Linked DNA regions of Homo sapiens. The protein of the gene in region 2 purifies or fractionates together with the protein of the main gene of each other region. This does not show direct contact. Each region holds a gene or a part of one and is shown on either strand. Other genes may lie near its edges.

What was found. The genes of interacting proteins can lie anywhere in the genome.
Region 1: the proteins of CHAC2 (region 2) and TOM1 purify together in Homo sapiens (affinity purification with mass spectrometry; one large-scale study listed by BioGRID and IntAct). This does not show direct contact.

Annotation. Positions count from the first base shown.
Region 1 is NC_000022.11:35,344,881-35,348,616, forward strand, and holds the end of TOM1 (target of Myb1 membrane trafficking protein), read left to right. Parts: intron 1-844; coding exon 845-904; intron 905-2,049; coding exon 2,050-2,089; coding exon of another isoform or gene 2,090-2,092; intron 2,093-2,174; coding exon 2,175-2,329; 3' UTR 2,330-3,093; downstream 3,094-3,736.
Region 2 is NC_000002.12:53,773,189-53,775,791, reverse strand, and holds the end of CHAC2 (glutathione-specific gamma-glutamylcyclotransferase 2), read right to left. Parts: intron 1,651-2,603; coding exon 1,267-1,650; 3' UTR 596-1,266; downstream 1-595. UniProt on the Homo sapiens protein: Catalyzes the cleavage of glutathione into 5-oxo-L-proline and a Cys-Gly dipeptide. Acts specifically on glutathione, but not on other gamma-glutamyl peptides.

The DNA.
Region 1 (3,736 bases), on a different chromosome or scaffold from region 2:
CTGCTGCTAGCCTCACCCTAAGGACGAGGGAAATCAGGCGCAGAGAAGTTAAGTAACCCACTCAGAGTCACACTGTGTTAAGGGGTGAGCTAGGTCCAGCTCTTTCTCACTCTGAAGTCTGTGCCCATGACCTCCAACTGGAGTCTGCCCCTGCAGAAGCCGTTAGAGAGGAAAGCCTCCAACTCCTGCCCCTGTGTGGGAGCCATCGTGGCACAGCCCATGTCTTTGTGGCCGAAAGTGAAATGTCCCCATCTGTAGCACCGCCCCTCTGGGTCTACCCACCTGGCCTTGTCTGGTTAACTTCGCGCCTCTGCTCTCAGGCCCTGCTATGCCCCCTTCTATCATGAAATCTGCGTCTGCAGAGACACCAGGGGATGGAACCTGGGGACCCCTGGCCCACTAACCATGTCCCCATCCCAGCCTTCACGGCTGGAGAAAATGCCTGGGGTCTGACCCTGGGCTTGGCGTGTCTTTTGTCAGATGCTCCTGAGCACCTGCAGCATAGCCCCTGCCCCAGGCCATTGCCCAAAGCCCCTCCTCCAGCCTAGAATCCTACCCGAAGGGTGTGTCGGAACTGGGGTTCTTCTCTTCAAGGGGAAGGAGCTCCCTCTGACCCCTGGCCCTGCTCCAGCTGCTGGGAGCCTGGTCCCCTGCTTAGTCTCCTGGCTCTGCACCTCCATCACCCACAGCCTGGCACAGCGGGCCCAGTGGTGGGTCCGGGCAGCTAGGCAGCTGAGGCTGGGGTGGGAGGCTGCCCAGGGCCACCCAGCTGCAGGGTGCTGAGCTGGCACGTCTTCCACCTTGTCACCTAGGGCACTGCCTTACCCTCTGCCCTTCCTTCCAGATCCCAGTCACCCAGGCCTGCCTCATGGAGGACATCGAGCAGTGGCTGTCCACTGACGTGGTATGTTGGGGCCCACTCCTCACCCACACAGCAGGAGGACCCGTTGTTCTCACCAAGAAATGACCCATGGGGCCAGGGTAGACTTATATAGCATATAGCACCCTGAGAGCAGAGGGGCACACTTAAAGTCCCCATCTCCTGCCACCTGCCCACCTTGTGTTTGGCACGCCCCCCAGAGAAGTCCTGGGCACAGTAGCCTCTCGGCTGCTTCCCAGAGCCTGCTCCCAAGGTGAGGTCCCAGTGGGTGTCAGCCCACCTTAGGGACATCAGGCCAGGCTAGAGAGGCTAACCGAGGAAGCATAACAGCGCCAGGCTCTTACCTGCAGTAGCTCAGAAGACTCCAGCCACTTGCAGAGGGAACCCATCACCACCCTGTTTACAGATCAGAAGACCGATAAGCAGCTGTCCTCTAAGGGGAAGCACCCAGGAGGAGGAGGGCGGGTGCCAGTCATGGGGACCCCAAGCCCTGCCACCCTCCCAGGGAGCAGAAGGGGCAGGGCCAGACTCAGCTTCTCCGTCCAGGGCTCCTACCGCAGCATCTGCCACCCCGTCTCTGGGCACCAAGGCCCACATGGGCACTTCAGGCCCAGAAGCCGCCTTCTGCAGGTGAAGAGACCATTTCTGCCCAGGACTAAGCCACAGACCAAGGACTCAGGCTTTCTGTCTGGTGGCAGAAGCCTCACCCCCTCCCTAGTTTGCAGTGTTAGCATGAATGGCCCTCAGCCTCTGGATGTCAGCCTTTCCCCCCCAGGGGTGAGGACCACCCACCCCTTGTGACCCTCCAAGGAAAGGAACCAGCACTCATCAAGGTCCCACTGGGCACCAGGTGCTGGGCTTGGCGTGCTGTGTGTTATCCCATTTCAGCTTCCCAGCAACCCTCCAAGTTAGCTTCAGCCCCCACCCCGCCCCCATTTTACAGAAGGAAAACACAAGGCTCAGGAAGTCAGGTGCCACCCAAGGAAGGTCCTACGGCTCAGGGAGGAGCCCAGGTCCAGGTCCTGGGACCTGGGTGGTGGGGGCGTGCAGAGCCTGAGCTGGGACCCAGTGCTGAGGTTCAGCGGGGCCCGAGCTGCAGCACCACTGCCCCAGGCTGACCGTACTGGGGGCCCGGCTAACCTCTGCCTCCTTTCCTTCTACCTTCCCAGGGTAATGATGCGGAAGAGCCTAAGGGGGTCACCAGCGAAGGTAGTAGTCCCCGCCCCTGCCCGCCCTCTCCTTTCCCCAGGGCTCTGGCCTCAGGGCCTACCCTCACCCTCTCCCCTTCCTCTAGAATTTGACAAATTCCTGGAAGAACGGGCCAAAGCCGCGGACCGATTGCCCAACCTCTCCAGCCCCTCAGCTGAGGGGCCCCCGGGTCCCCCATCTGGCCCAGCGCCCCGGAAGAAGACCCAGGAGAAAGATGATGACATGCTGTTTGCCTTATGAGTGTGGGGTCTGGCACCCTGCAGCCCAGGTCCCCACTGCTCTCACACCCTTAGGCTGGGACCTCCCTCCCTCCTCTGGTGTTAAGGCTGCTTTGGGGGTGGCTTGTTACCCCCTTTTCCTCCTCTTTGAAGACGGAGCTGCCCCAGCTGTGGCTGGGGGTGTGGAGGCAGTGGGATGAACTGGGGGACAGGTCTGCGCTGCAGTGGGATCTGGCTGCTCTGCCTCCTTTCCCACCCCAGCTGACCATGAGACTTTGCTGAGAAGTGGAGGCCCCAGGACAGGCTGGCTGGCTGGCTGGCTGCTTGACCCAGTGTGACTCTCCTTCACTGAGTGATACCCTGCTCCGGGCCCATGCCCCAAGGAGCCCTTCAGAGCCCACACTGCCAGTCGAGGCCTGGCTGGAGGCTGGCCACAGTGGAAATTCTGCCGAGCCTCTTGTCCCTTCCCTGCTCTGCTGCATGGGGCCCCATGGCTTTGGCTGGCCACTGAGGGTAGGGTGTGGAGGTGTGGAGGCCCCCTGAGGAGCTGCGGCGGCCCAGGTACGAAGCTGCAACTCTGCGCGCAGTGGGCGAGATCTCATCAGCCCCAGGCTGCAGGTGAGGCTTCAGGGGATGCTGGGGCCCCACTGCCCCTCCGCTGCCTTGCCCTCCATCCTTCCTCTGTTCCTTCTGGCCGGGCACCACAGCACTGGGGCTCACCTCTTGGTTGATCCTCTTGTACTGGGAGAGGTGCCTTTTGTATCCCCAATTAAAGGTAGAAAACCACCCTGCTAGCAGCATTGTCAAGTCTCCTGGTCAGAAATGACTTCTTGGCCTCACAGAGGCAGCGACTACTTTGGGCAGGGCTGGGGGCCATCCGAGAGGTGAGCATCTGTAGATGGTGCAGGCGGAAGGACAGGAGCAAACACCCAGCTACACTACGCAGGTGCCGCCTCCTCCCACCTCACATGGCAGGCTCCAGCCACCGCCCCTGCCCGGAGGATGCATGCCCTCCCCAGCTGACACCCCTCCCTCCTCAAGGCACCTTCGTGCTGCTGTTCCATGAGGCCAGCTCCTGCCCTGCACAGAGCACACTAATCACAAGGGCGGGGACCTGTGTGGACTGTGTGCGCATGTGGGGTGCACAGGCCACAGGAGGATGCTGGCCTTCCGAGGCTGGGTGCCAGGCACAGCCTGGGGCTACGCACTGGCTCGTAGCATCACAACAGCCTGGGAGAAGCAAAGTGAGCGTCCTCGATGTATAGATGCGGAGACTAGGACTCCATGAGCCGCCCAGCTCAGAGGAGGAAGCTCATGCAGTTGTCATGTGCCAGCATTTCCTCATGCAGAAGCGCATCCTCCCCATTTTCCAGGCACCAAAGCTAAGTTGGGAAGACATGGCACACAGTTCCAGACGCTGGGCCCCAGG
Region 2 (2,603 bases):
CAAATAAAAAATTATAGGCCGGGCATGGTGGCTCACACCTGTAATCCTAGCACTTTGGGAGGCTGAGGCTGGTGGATCACCTGAGGTCAGGAGATCGAGACCAGCTTGGCCAACATGGTGAAACCCCGTCTCTACTAAAAATACAAAAATTAGCCGGGCGTGGTGGCACATGCCTGTAATCCCAGCTACGCGGGAGGCTGAGGCAGGAGAATTCCTTGAACCTGGGAGGTGAAGGCTGCAGTGAGCTGAGGTTGGCACCACTGCACTCCAGCCTAGGCAACAGAGCGATACTCCGTCTCAAAAAACAAAACAAAATTATAATTCCAGGAGGTGCCTGTTCTTGGCTTCTGCCAGAGGTTACACTTTCCAGCCTGTGGGATGGCCAGACGCAGGCTGCAAAGAAAAAAAAAATTTTATATGTATATATATGTATATACACACACACACACACAAATTGAGATAGTGACAGACAAAGAATTCCAAAAGCTGTTTTAAAAACTAAATTTTCATTATATGTGCCATTAATTTGTAGTATCAGCCCATCTTTTTCAGTTTTGGTATAAGATTAATACAAAGTGAATGACAGACTACATCATTAGTGATCATGATTTGTATAATGTAATTTATGCTTTAGTGAGTTATTTTCCATATAGTAAAATGCCTTTATTTAAAAAAGAAGAGGTACAGTACATTATAATTCCAAGGAAATTTTCGTATTTTAAAAATGCCAATTTTTGGCTAAAAACTCAAAAGATTTCATTTAATACTTGAATAACAAGGAAATTCACAATTAAGGCTGAAATACTGTTCATATTATTGTGTATTTCTAAGCATGTTATTTTAAGCTTGTGTATTTTAAACCATGGTTACAGAATTGTATAGGAATATATTGAAGGCATAACCTTATATTTATTGGAATTTTGGTTTAATTGTTTAGAATTTCAAAATAGTATTGGGATGTGAAACAGGATGATTATCACTCTGATAAAAACAAGACTGAACTGAGTCCTTCACTGTATTTTTCTAAAGAACTCACTTCTAGTGAGTAAGTGTTCAATAACATAAAGTTAGGAAATCTTTATGTTATTAAAATTTGAATTTTTCTTTCACTGTATCCCAATATTTTAAATATGTGTTTCAGGACATTTCCAGTTAAAATAAAAGTTTAAATAATATCCTCACTACATTAAAAATAAGATCTTTAAGTAAACGTATTTCCAAATCATATTGTCATTGTGCACTGAAGTTAATTCTCTGAAGACTAAATTATATGCAATTGAGGTTCTGTTTCCCTTCTAAACGTTCCTTTACTAATTTTTCCAAAGCGAAAAGATGCTCATCTGCTTCTTCTGGCACAAGGTTCCTAATAGAATTTGCAAGTTCAAAAAGATATTCTGTATTTCTTCCACTTGGACCAGCTGCATTAAAAATTTGTTCAGCAATGTCTTCCAGAGGTGCAGGACCAAGATAATCAGGATTATCACATGTTCCAATATATAGCAATACACTGAATGGTTTTGTTGTGGGATCTTTTGGATAAAAAATGACTGTTGTGGTTCTGTAGCCTCCTTTTTCTCTGAAGTCAAGGTATGCTTTTACTTCTTCTTCCTTTCCTACTGGCAATCTGTAAGCAACACCCCATACACATCCCTGTTGAAAAATGAAAAGAATACACTGGTATTATAAGGCTAATTAAAATAGGTGAAGAAAGGTTGTGATCTAAGGGAGTATCTCATATATTCTTTTCTGTTTGTTTTTGAGATGAAGTCTTGTCTGTTGCCCAGGCTGTGGTGCAGTGGCACGATCGTGGCCTACTGCAACCTCAGCCTCCCGGGTTCAAGCTATTCTCCTGCCTCAGCCTCTCAAGTGACTGGGATTACAGGAATGCACCACCATGCCCAGCTAATTTTTGTATTTTTAGTAGAGAAGGGGTTTTGTCACGTTGGCCAGGCTGGTCTCAAACTCCTGACCTCAAGTGATCCACCTGCCTCGGCCTCCCAGTGTGCTGGGATTACAGGTGTGAACCACCATGCCTGCCTGTATCTTGTATATTTTTAAAAGTGGGCCAGGAGCGGTGGCTCACGCCTGTAATACCAGCACTTTGGGAGGCCGAGGTGAGTGGATCACGAGGTCAGGAGTGGAAGACCAGCCTGGCCAAGATGGTGAAACCCCGTCTTTACTAAAAATACAAAAATTAGTCAGGCACAGTGGCAGGCACTTGTAATCCCAGCTACTCAGGAGGCTGAGGCAGGAGCATTGCTTGAACCCGGGTGGCAGAGGTGGCAGTGAGCCGAGATCATGCCACTGAACTCAAGCCTGGGTTATAGAGTGAGACTGTCTCAAAAAAATAAAAAATAAATAAAAGTCAATACAGTTTTTCTTCACTTAAAGTGCACAGAAGAACATACTAAACAATAAAGGAAATAAGCACTTTAAAATCTCCATTGTGAATAATTTCTTTGTATCATAGGCACAGCAAGATATTTTATCTTAAAAAAATTTTTTTTTAATTTGGTCTTTTTCTTTAATAACGGGACTGAAATGAAAAATATGAGCCTTTCACTTGGTCATTAAAAAATTCTAGAAACAAAGTGCCATTTGTT